Linked DNA regions of Homo sapiens: region 2 is linked to region 1. The links come from fine-mapping of genetic effects on gene expression. Tissue or cell type: whole blood. Region 1 holds a variant in brackets; the other region holds the start of a gene. All regions are shown on one strand. Distances are between the middles of the regions.

Evidence for each region.
Region 2: MDS2 starts here. The variant in region 1 is fine-mapped to the expression of MDS2 in whole blood (TOPMed, PIP above 0.99).

The regions. Positions count from the first base shown.
Region 1 is chr1:23,617,547-23,622,923 of GRCh38, forward strand. No RefSeq gene overlaps it. Among named protein-coding and RNA genes, the nearest start is that of MDS2, 7.1 kb to the right of the region's middle. RefSeq lists enhancers at 1,466-1,966, 1,967-2,467 and a silencer at 1,973-2,242. The variant A/C (reference allele first, on the strand shown) is at 2,001.
Region 2 is chr1:23,625,293-23,630,669 of GRCh38, forward strand. It overlaps MDS2 (myelodysplastic syndrome 2 translocation associated), which reads left to right and starts at 2,042. Exons shown (of 6, transcript NR_167910.1): 1 at 2,042-2,245; 2 at 2,489-2,706; 3 at 3,215-3,305; 4 at 4,189-4,265. RefSeq lists an enhancer at 496-615.

The DNA.
Region 1 (5,377 bases):
CTCTAATTGTTCTCCTGGATCTACTGCTGTTCAGTTTCAGAAAGTTCTTGCCCAACTCCCCCCCACCCCACCCCATTGCCATTACCTTGGTTCAGGCCTCCTTCAGCTCACCACAACAACTTGAATCTGTCCTCCCTTTCCTCCCCCTTTGTCCATCCTCCATACCTATTATGGAGATTTTTTTTTTTTTTGAGATGGAGTCTCACTCTGTTGGCCAGGCTGGAGTGTAGTGGTGCAATCTCGGCTCACGGCAACCTCCGCTTCGCGGGTCCAAGCAATTCTCCTGCCTCAGCCTCCCAAGTAGCTAGGACTATAGACACGTACCCCCACACCTGGCTAATTTTTGTATTTTTAGTAGAGACGGGGTTTCACTATGTTGGCTAGGCTGGTCTTGAATTCCTGACCTCAAGTGATCCACCTGCCTTGGCCTCCCAAGGTGCTGGGATTACAAGTGTGAGCCACCATGCCCAGCCTACCACAGAGATCTTTCTAGAACCCACAACTGACCATGTCACTCCTGCTGCAAACCCTGCGTGGCTCCCTGTCAACCTCAGGATAAAGTCTGAGCTTCCTAGGGTGGTAACTGGAGGCCATTCCCAATTCGACTTCATCTTTTTTTTTTTTTAAATTTTTTTTTTGAGACAGAGTCTCACTCTGTCACCCAGGCTGGAGTGCAGTGGTGTGATCTTGGCTCACTGCAAATTCTGCCTCTGGGGTTCAAGTGATTCTTCTGCCTCAGCCTCCCAAGTAGCTGGGATTACAGGCGTGCACCACCATGCCCGGCTCCAATTTGACTTTATCTTGAATCCATTTCCTCTCCCCATCCTGCATTTCAGTCACGTTTCACGCCCTTTTCCTGAGCACACTACCCCCTTTCTTGTCTCTGGACTTTTCTGCTGGAATCCGTCTCTGTCCAGCACGTGCCTTGCCCCTCTCCCCACCTGAGCTACAACCATTTTTCAGAGAGTCCCGTCAAGGCTGACTCCTCTGGGAAGTACCCCCTGTACCAGCCTGATCCCCCTTGCCCAGAGAGTCGGCTTCCCCCCTCTTCTGTGCTCCCATCACACCTGGGCCTTTGCGTCGTGGGCTAACTGGGACATGAGCCCCCAAGGGCAGGACCCAGCCTGACCTTCCTCTCCACCCTTGGGCCATCGCTGCACACTGCAGTGAGCTCCATGGGTAAAGGGGAATGCCATCCGGCCCTTCTCACAGGGATCCTCCTGGCTCATCTCATTTGGTTCTTGACTCATCCTTGACTCTTTAGGGCAAAGAGGCACCTGGAAGAAATAATTACAGTCTTTGCATGTGGGTAGTACTTCGCAGTTTACCAGGTGTTTCTGAGTTTCTCATTGGTCTTTATATGTCTGTGGGTTTCAGGGAAGTTGTTGTCAACCCCATTTTACAGATGGAAAGCTTGGTTCAGAGAGTTAGGGATGGAGCCAATCCCCAGTCTTGGGCAAGCCCCTGACCCTGAAAATCCTTTTGTGATCCAAGCCCCCCATTTCCTAAACGTGTGCTGAGAACCAGGGAAAACCGGGGTATCCAAGTAAGAAGAGGGAATGCAGATTCTGGCCTGGGCTAACAGCAACAGTAATAATGACCCCACGGCAGCCACTGCCCTTGTCCTGCTCTGCGTTCCATCCACGTCACGAGCATCATCTGCTTATGAGGAAGGGTTACTCATTCCCATGTTACAGATAAGGAAACCGAGGCCCAGCAAAGCTAAGAGACTTGCCTTTCTTGGCCAGTTTCCTTCCGATGCCTTGGTGATCGCTACAGCCCTTTACAGTTTGTAACTTTAGCACCCCTTTCCTGATCTCTCCAGTCTAGCACTGGTAGGTGGACGTGCTCCCATTTGACAGAAGCAGCAACTGAGGTTCAGAAGTCAAGGGTGGAGCTGGGAGACGGCTCTCAGCCTTCCGATCATGGGAGCGCGCCCAGAGCCTGGTGGCGCAGCTCTGGCGGGGAGGCGGGGAGCAAGCGATAGGGCCGCGAGTGGG[A/C]GTCCGCGTCTCCTCCCCGCCAGCCGCCGCCGCCGCCGCCGCCGCCACAGCAGAGCCTGGCTTCCCCGCAGCAAGCGCGGCAGGTGCGCAGCCGGTGGCGGCGTCGGCGCGGCGGGTGCGCCCGCGTGGGCGTGGGCGAGGGACCTGGGCGGGCGGGGCCCCACGCCCATCCTCCCTCCCCCCTGCCCTCTCTCCCGTGGCTGGCGGCAGGTGAGTGGGTGTCGAGGAACCGCCAGGCAGCGGAGAAAACAGGACGCCGCAGAAATCAGATTACTCACCTGCAGCTGCTACTACCCAGGGCTAATAAAAGCAGAGCTTCCTGTTGTTTCTTTATTACCGCCCTCTGCCTCCCTCCGCCCCAATCCGCTCCCAGCTGCAGCCAGAGCCCTAACTGATCGCCAGAAACCGGTTGCTTGGGGTCCAGACCAATCCAGTGCCTGAAATACCCTCTGTGCCGCACAGGGTTGGGTTAATGCTTCCTCAAGGGTGGACTTCGGTCACCTGCATGGGAACCACCTGGGGTGCTGGTTAACAACACACATCTCCAAATACGGCTTCACACCTGCTCGATCAATTCCTGCAGTTTGGGGCCCAAGAGCAGAATTCATAGGAATCTCAGGTGATTTGTAGGCAGGCTGAAGTTTGAGAACCACCGAGTCTGGATGTTGTAGGTTCAGATGATGTGGGTTTCCTGTTCTCAAATGCGACCCACAAGTTAGGGATGAAACCTATCCCCAGTCTTGGGCACGTGGGGCAGAGCCTCAGTCTGCTTATTTGTAAAATGGGGGTGAAAATAATACAGACCTCTCAGGACTGACTGAAACAAGGCTCAAATGGAGAATACACTTATCGTGATTCCTAGCGATTGCTCCTGGAGTGTATAGACCAACCAGGACTAGGCACGGAGTACCATCCATGGAGTGTGAGGGGCAGGATGAAGAAGCAGGCAGAATGGACCTCGGCTGGGAAGGGGCCATGATTCACCCTGGGTGCACTGAGAAAGACTTTTCACCGTTGAGCTTCTCCAGAGTCCAGTCCCCCTCACACCAGGAAAATGTTCCTGCCCAGGGCATGGACAACCCTGATGGCTAGATCCAGTGACCTCTTCTCAGCCCTTCTGTGACACCTGACTCTGGAGTGGACCTCACCTTTCTCCTCCAAGCTGTCACCTCCCTCAACTTCAGGGCAAGTTTGGATCCCCTTCTTCGTCTTCCTCCTATCTAGCTAGCAGCTCCCTTGCAGGCCCCCGCAGCCCTTCCTCCTCCTGCCTCCGCAGTCATGGGCACCTCGGCCTACTGCGCAGCCTCTACATCCTCCCAGGACAACTCACCCACTCCCAGTTACCTTCTTTAAGCTGAGCTCTGCCCTTCCTGAGTCCCTGATTCATAAACACAGCACCTCCTAGACATCTCTGCTTGGCAACTCCCCTGCATCCAACTCAACTTGACCAGCTCCAAACTCATCATCTCACTCTCCCCTGCCACCTGCCTCTTCTGGTTTCTCTGTCTCAGGGCAACACACCTGGATATTGTCCCAGGTGAGGTCTGCTCCTCAGCTCCTCATCCAGCTTTCCAATCCAATCCATTTTATCTCCCCAGTTTTGCTCCAGAATCTGTCCCCTTCTTCCTAGTCTTCCTGTCCCTCTGCACCCCAGGTCCCCTAGTTCAGGACTCCATAATCTCTCACCTGGATGATTCTAACAGCCTTTTTTTTTTTTTTTTTTGAGACCGAGTCTCACTCTGTCGCCCAGGCTGGAGTGCAGTGGCGCGATCTTGGCTCACTGCAAGCTCCGCCTCCTGGGTTCACGCCATTCTCCTGCCTCAGTGACATTTACTGAGCTCTTACCCAATGCTCAGTACCATGTCAAGCCAGTCAATCTTTGTAGCTTTAGCTCAGCCTCATACCATTTACATGATTATTATTCCTGACTTACAGATGAAAAAACTGAGGAAGAGGGAGGTTAGGTAGCTTGCCCAAGGTCACAAAGCTAGTAAGTAGCAGAGTTGGGATTTGTACCCAGGTCTCTCTGGATCCAAAGCTGGTACTGTTAGCTGTTCTAATCTTGAGCCACCTTGTCCCAGTTGCATAGTCTTCTCCTTTTTTGTATCTTCCCTGGCATCTCAGAGGATGCCTGGCATATGGCAGATGTTTGTTGAATGAATAAACAAATCTGTCTGCACTCCCATTTAATTCTTCTTTTTTTTGACAGAGTTTCGCTCTTGTCGCCCAGGTTGGAGTGCAGTGGCATGATCTCAGCTCACTGCAACCTCTGCTTCCTGGGTTCAAGCAATTCTCCTGCCTCAGCCTCTGAAGTAGCTAGGATTATAGGCATGAGCCACTACACCCAGCTAATTTTTGTATTTTTAGTAGGGCCTAGGTTTCACCATGTTGGCCAGGCTGGTCTCGAACTCCTGACCTCAGGTGATCCACCCACCTTGGCCTCCCAAAGTGCTGGGATAACAGGCATGAGCCTCCGTACCCGGCCCCATTTAATTTTTACAACAACCCTAGGAACTACATTTTTTTAAAAAAAACAAAACTTACTATGTAATATTTGATGATTACAAAAAATGTGTGTTGAATATCTGGCATATGAAGACAAACACCTGTGAACCCATGGCCCCAGCTTAGGAACTAGGCCTTCACCAGCACCACTGAGGCCACCTGTGTGTGCCTCCCCAGTCCTATTCCCTGCCTTCCTCCAGAAGTAAACACTATCCTGAATTTTGTGGTTATCATTCCATGCCCTTGCTTTGAAAAAAAAAATAATTTTACCAAATGGGGAGGATCCTGTGCAACACATTATTACGTTTGTTTTTTGATCTTTATATAAACAGCACAATGCATGTGCATTCTTCTTTGGCTTGATTTTTTCATGCATCACTATGTTTCTAAAATACGTACATGATTTTGCACTTTTGGCTGGCCTTCATTCCTTTTTCCTGCTGTCTAGTACTCCGTTGTCAAATAGAATTCAGTGACTTTATCCATTCTCCAGTTGATGAGCACATGGATTGTTTCCAGTTTTTCGCTATCACCAATAAGGCTGCCATGATCATTCTTACACCTATGTCTTGGTGCACACATGTAGGAGTTCCTCTAAGCTACCTACCTCAGACTGTAATTGTGGGTCATTGGGTATGCACATAATTAGCTTTACAAGATGCTGCCAAGTGATTTTCTGAAGTGCTTGTATTGACTAACATTCTTCCTTTCCTCTGCCACAGTGGATGAGAATTCCAGTACCTCCACATCATCCCCAACAGAGTATGATCAGATTCCTTCACTGTTCCTCACACGGTCTCCATTTGCACCTCTCTAATAAGATGAAACATCTTTTTTTTTTTTTTTTTTTTTTGAGGCGGAGTTTCACTCTT
Region 2 (5,377 bases), 7.7 kb after region 1:
TGTGATCTCGGCTTACTGCAACCTCTGTCTCCCAGGTTCAAGTGATTCTCATGCCTCAGCCTCCAGAGTAGCTGGGATTACAGGTGCCCACCACCACAACAAGGAAATTTTTTTTTTTTTTTTAGTAGAGGCAGGGTTTTGCCATGTTGGCTGGGCTGGTCTCAAACTCCTGACCTCAAGTGATCCGCCTGCCTTGGCCTCCCAAAGTGTTGGAATTACAGGCGTGAGCCACCATGCTCAGCCTAATTTATGTCTTTAAAAGATCACTCTGACTGCCTTGTGATCAACTATCTATGAACTGATCTAAATACTTCTTGAAGCCACTAGTATTTTTAGCCAGTACCCCCTCTGTGTGAAGCAAAACTTCCCTTTACTGGTCTTAAATTTACTTCTTTCGAGTTTCAAGGGGAGCCCCCTTCTGCCTCCTATCTTAGGGTTAGTGGCCCAATGCGAGATCTCTAGTAAAGGTTTTCACAGAGTGGGTGGGAGGAGGGTCTCCCAGTTTATACCTTACCTGCTCTGTGATGTTTCACCACCTGTAAAATGAAAATAATGAGAGTGGCCACCTCAAGAGGCTTTGATGATGAAATGGGACACAGCTTGGCAGCAGGGAGTAATCAATATAGGCTAGCTTCCATGCAGATGACAATTATGGTGATCAGGAGGAGGATGATAATGATAGGGATGATGGTGATGGTGATGATGATGGTGATGATGGGGATGATGGTGATGGTGATGATGGTGATGTTGATGGTGATGGTGATGATGGTGATGGGGATGATGATGATGGTGATGGTGATGGTGATGATGATGGGGATGATGATGATGGTGATGTTGGGGATGATGATGATGGTGGTGATGGTGATGATGATGGGGATGATGATGATGGTGATGATGATGATGGGGATGATGATGGTGGGGATGATGGTGATGGGGATGATGGTGATGGGGATGATGATGATGGGGATGATGGTGATGATGGGGATGATGATGGTGGGGATGATGGTGATGGGGATGATGGTGATGGGGATGATGATGATGGGGATGATGGTGATGGTGATGATGATGATGGGGATGATGATGATGGGGATGATGATGGGGATGATGAGGATTCTGTTGTGTGATATTGGGGGAGTCAGTGAATGACATTTTCCATGTCTGTCAAATAAGGGTGTTGGACCAAATGATCTGTGAAGGTCCATCGAGGTCTGATGTTCTAGAATTTTCTAGTTTAAGTGCTCTCTTCCTCCTTTCAGCCTGGGTTACCCTCTTCCCTGCAATTTTGGTGCTCCCTAGTGATGTGTGATGAGAGATGGAGTATTATAGTAGAGACAAAACTGATGTGGAGTCAGGAGGCCCGAGGTTCCAGCGGCACCATTTATAGTGGAGTCTTCATCATGGTGCATTTAACTTACACACATTTTTTTTTTCTCTTTGAGACAGGGTCTTGCTCTGTCACCCAGGCTGGGGTGCAATGGCGTGATCTCGGCTCACTGCAACCTCCACCTCCTGGGCTCAAGTGATTCTCATGCCTCAGCCTCCCAAGTAGCTGCGGTTATAGATGTGCACCACCACGCCCGGCTAATTTTTGTATTTTTCACAGAGACGGTGTTTCACCAGGTTGCCCAGGCTGGTCTCGAACTCCCGGCCTCAAGTGATCTGCCCACCTTGGCCTCCCAAAGTGCTGGGATTACGGGCGTGAGCCACTGCACCCAGCCTAATTTACACACATTTAAACACGCGTGTAAAGGGAGGGGAGAGAGAGAGAGAGCACGTTGTGCATGAATCACTGCTACAGAGTCACACTCCAATTCCACTTGGTGAGCACTCACCCCTTGAGAGGGAATGTGACCTGCCAGGTTCCCCCCGCCGGTCCAAGTTCCTGCACTTCCAGCCTCATGTGGGCTCTCATCATGCTGAGTGTGATCCTGCTGTTCAAATGGTTTTTATGTGGTGTGGCCCCAGATACAAGCCAACCATTTCACCTGTGGTGAGCGGAAGGCGCAGCTATCTATAACACCTGAGAAAAAAAGAACCTGCTGTACTAGCTGTCAGCTGCTGGAGACCTTGCTTTCTGTTTCACTGGGAAACAGAAGCAATCAGAAGGAAACTTCCTCAGACTCCACCTCTCCCTTCACTCCCGCCTGTATCCGTGCCTGTTACCTGGACGCCTTGTGGAACTTGAATTCTACGCCCTCCACTGGGACACTGCCCTTCATCCTCTCTCACCTCCTCCAGGACAACAGTGAGCAATTCCTTGCGTCTCTCCCACAGCTCCAGGGGTCCCCCTCTTCTGCTGGCTCATTCACATCACCACACAATCGGCTGCAGTTCTTCCAATTGTACACACACACACACACATGCACAAGCCCATGCACACACACCCCCACACCCACACCGTCATATTTCTTTGCTCCCCCTTCCAGGAAAACATCTCAGTGTTTTCTGAATTGACCATCTTCATCCCTCCTTCCTTTTCTCTCTCCAGCTCTCTCTGTGGGGCTTTCACCCCCATCGCTCCACTGAAACTGCTCTTGTCAAGGTCATCGATGACCTCCCGCTGACAAACTCAACTGTCCCATCTCTACACCCCAAACTGACCCATCAGGAATAGCATGAGCTCCACCTTCCAAAGCTTCCGCAATCTCACCGTCTCCACCGTTACTACCTGTGTCCGAGGCACCACTGTTTCTTGCCTGGAGTTGTGTAAGAGCCTCTCAGTGACGTTCCCTGCTTTCTTTCTTTTTTTTTTTTTTTTTTTTTGAGACGGAGTCTTGCTGTCGCCCAGGCTGGAGTGCCGTGGCGCCATCTCCTCTCACTGCAAGCTCCGCCTCCCGGGTTCACGACATTCTCTTGCCTCAGCCTCCCGCGTAGCTGGGAATACAGGCGCCCGCCACCTCGCCCGGCTAATTTTTTGTATTTTTAGTAGAGACGGGGTTTCACCGTGTTAGCCAGGATGGTCTCGATCTCCTGACCTCGTGATCCGCCCACCTCGGCCTCCCAAAGTGCTGGATTACAGGCGTGAGCCACCGCGCCCGGCCAATTTTTTTTTTTTAGACGGAGTCTCGCTCTGTTGCCCAGGCTGGAGGGCAGCTCGCTCCAAGCTCCGCCTCCTGGGTTCACACCATTCTCCTGCCTCAGCCTCCCGAGTAGCTGGGACTACAGGCGCCCACCACCACGCCTGGCTAATTTTTTTTATTTTTATTTTTAACAGAGACGGGATTTCACCGTGTTAGCCAGGATGGTCTCGATCTCCTGACCTCGTGATCCGCCTGTCTCGACCTCCCAAAGTGCTGGGATTACAGGTGTGAGCCACCGTGCTGGGCATCCCTGCTTTCATCCTAGCACTCCCTGCTGCCTTTATACCCCATAGAATAACCAATGTGATCTTTTCATTTATTCATTTATTATTATTATTATTATTATTATTTTGGAGGCAAAGTCTCGCTCTATCCCCCAGGCTGGAGTACAGTGGTGCAATCTCGGCTCACTGCAACCTTCACCTCCCGGGTTCAAGTGATTCTCATGCCTTAGCCTCCCCAGTAGCTAGGATTACAGGCCCCCACCACCACGCCCGGCTAATTTTTGTGTTTTTAGTAGAGACGGGGTTTCACCATGTTGGCCAGGCTGGTCTCGAACTCCTGACCTCAGATGATCTGCCCACCTCGGCCTCCCAAAGTGCTGGGATTACAAGCATGAGCCACCGCACCCAGCCAATGTGATCTTTTTAAAACATGAGTCAAATTACTTCCTTCCTCTGTTCAAATGCCCCAGTGGCTCCCCTCTCACTCAGAGAAAATCTTAACACCGTTCTGTGGCCTAGAAAGTCCTACCTGAGCTGTGCACACCCCTCCCCACCTTACCTCCTGTTGCTTTTCCCTCCCTTGCCCCAGCCCCACTGGCCTCCTTGCTGTTCTTCGAGCAGCCAAGCACAATCACGCCTCCCGGTCTTCGCCCTTGTATTCCCTCTGCCTAGAGAAGGTAACTGCCCCTGCCCATTTATCCATGACAGGGCTCACTTCCGCTCATCACTAGGCAAGTTTCTCTGGCCATCCTGTTATACATACAATAGCACCCTAATCCTCTCTCACCTCTCCCACTGTCTAGCCCTCTCTCCTGCTTGTCGTTTCTTCATGGCATTCATCACTGTAGAACTGACCTTTGTTTACTGTATGTCTCTCCCACTAGAATGTTGTAGTCCTCATCATCAGCAGAGACTTTGTGCCATCCTCTGCTATATTATCCTGAAGAGTGCCTGGCTCATGGTAGGTGTTGAATCAATATACGTTAAGTAGATGAAAGCGTTTGCATAACTGGGAAGCTATTTGTTGGTGTCCACTGCACTCCAGCCTGAGTAACACAGTGAGACCCTGTCTTAAAATAATAATAATAATAATAATAATAATAATAATAATAATAATAATAATAATATTGGTGAGGGCTGGGTGCGATGGCTGATGCCTATAATCCCAGTACTTTGGGAGGCTGAGGTGGGTGGATTGCTGGAACACAGGACTTCAAAACCAACCTGGGCAACATGGTGAGACCCTGGCTCTACAAAAAAATTTTAAAAAGTAGCCCTGCATGGTGGCACGTGCCTGTGGTCCCAGCTATGCAGGTGGCTGAAGTGGGAGGATGGCTTGAGCTCAGGAGGTCAAGGCTACAGTGAACCGTGATCATGCCACTGCACTCTAGCCTGGCAGTCTGAGGGAGACTGTTTCTATATTGCTGAGGATGTGGGTAGCTGGAGAGTCTCAGGCATTATCAGTGAAAGTGTGAATTGCTATTACCCTAGTGTGAGGCAAGTCCTTTGACTCCTGAATCCTCAGTCTAGGAATTTACCCTCAGGTAATTCTTACCCAATGTCAAAAAGATGCAGGGATGTTCACGGAACTTTTTTTATAGTAGTGAAAAATTGGAAATGACATCAATGTCCAACCATACAAGGGTTGGTTGTTAAAATTATGATAGAGCCATATAATGAATACTAAGGGGCCATCAAAAATGATATTGTGAAAGGATACTTCATGAAACTTGAGAATATGTTTATAATATATTATTAAGTGAACATTTTTTTAAAAACCAGCAGGCCAGGTGTGGCGCCTCATGCCTGTAATCCTAGCACTTTGGGAGGCTGAGGTGGGTGGATCACCTGAAGTCAGGAGTTCAGGACCAGCCTGGCCAACATGGTAAAACCTCGTCTCTACTAAAAATACAAAAATAAGCCAGGCGTGGTGGTGTGCGCCTGTAATCCCAGCTACCCAGGAGGCTGCAGCAGGAGAATCGCTGGAACCTGGGAGGCAGAGGTTGCAGTGAGCTGAGATTGGACTACTGCACTCCAGCCTGGGCAACAGAGCGAGACTCCATCTCAAAGAAA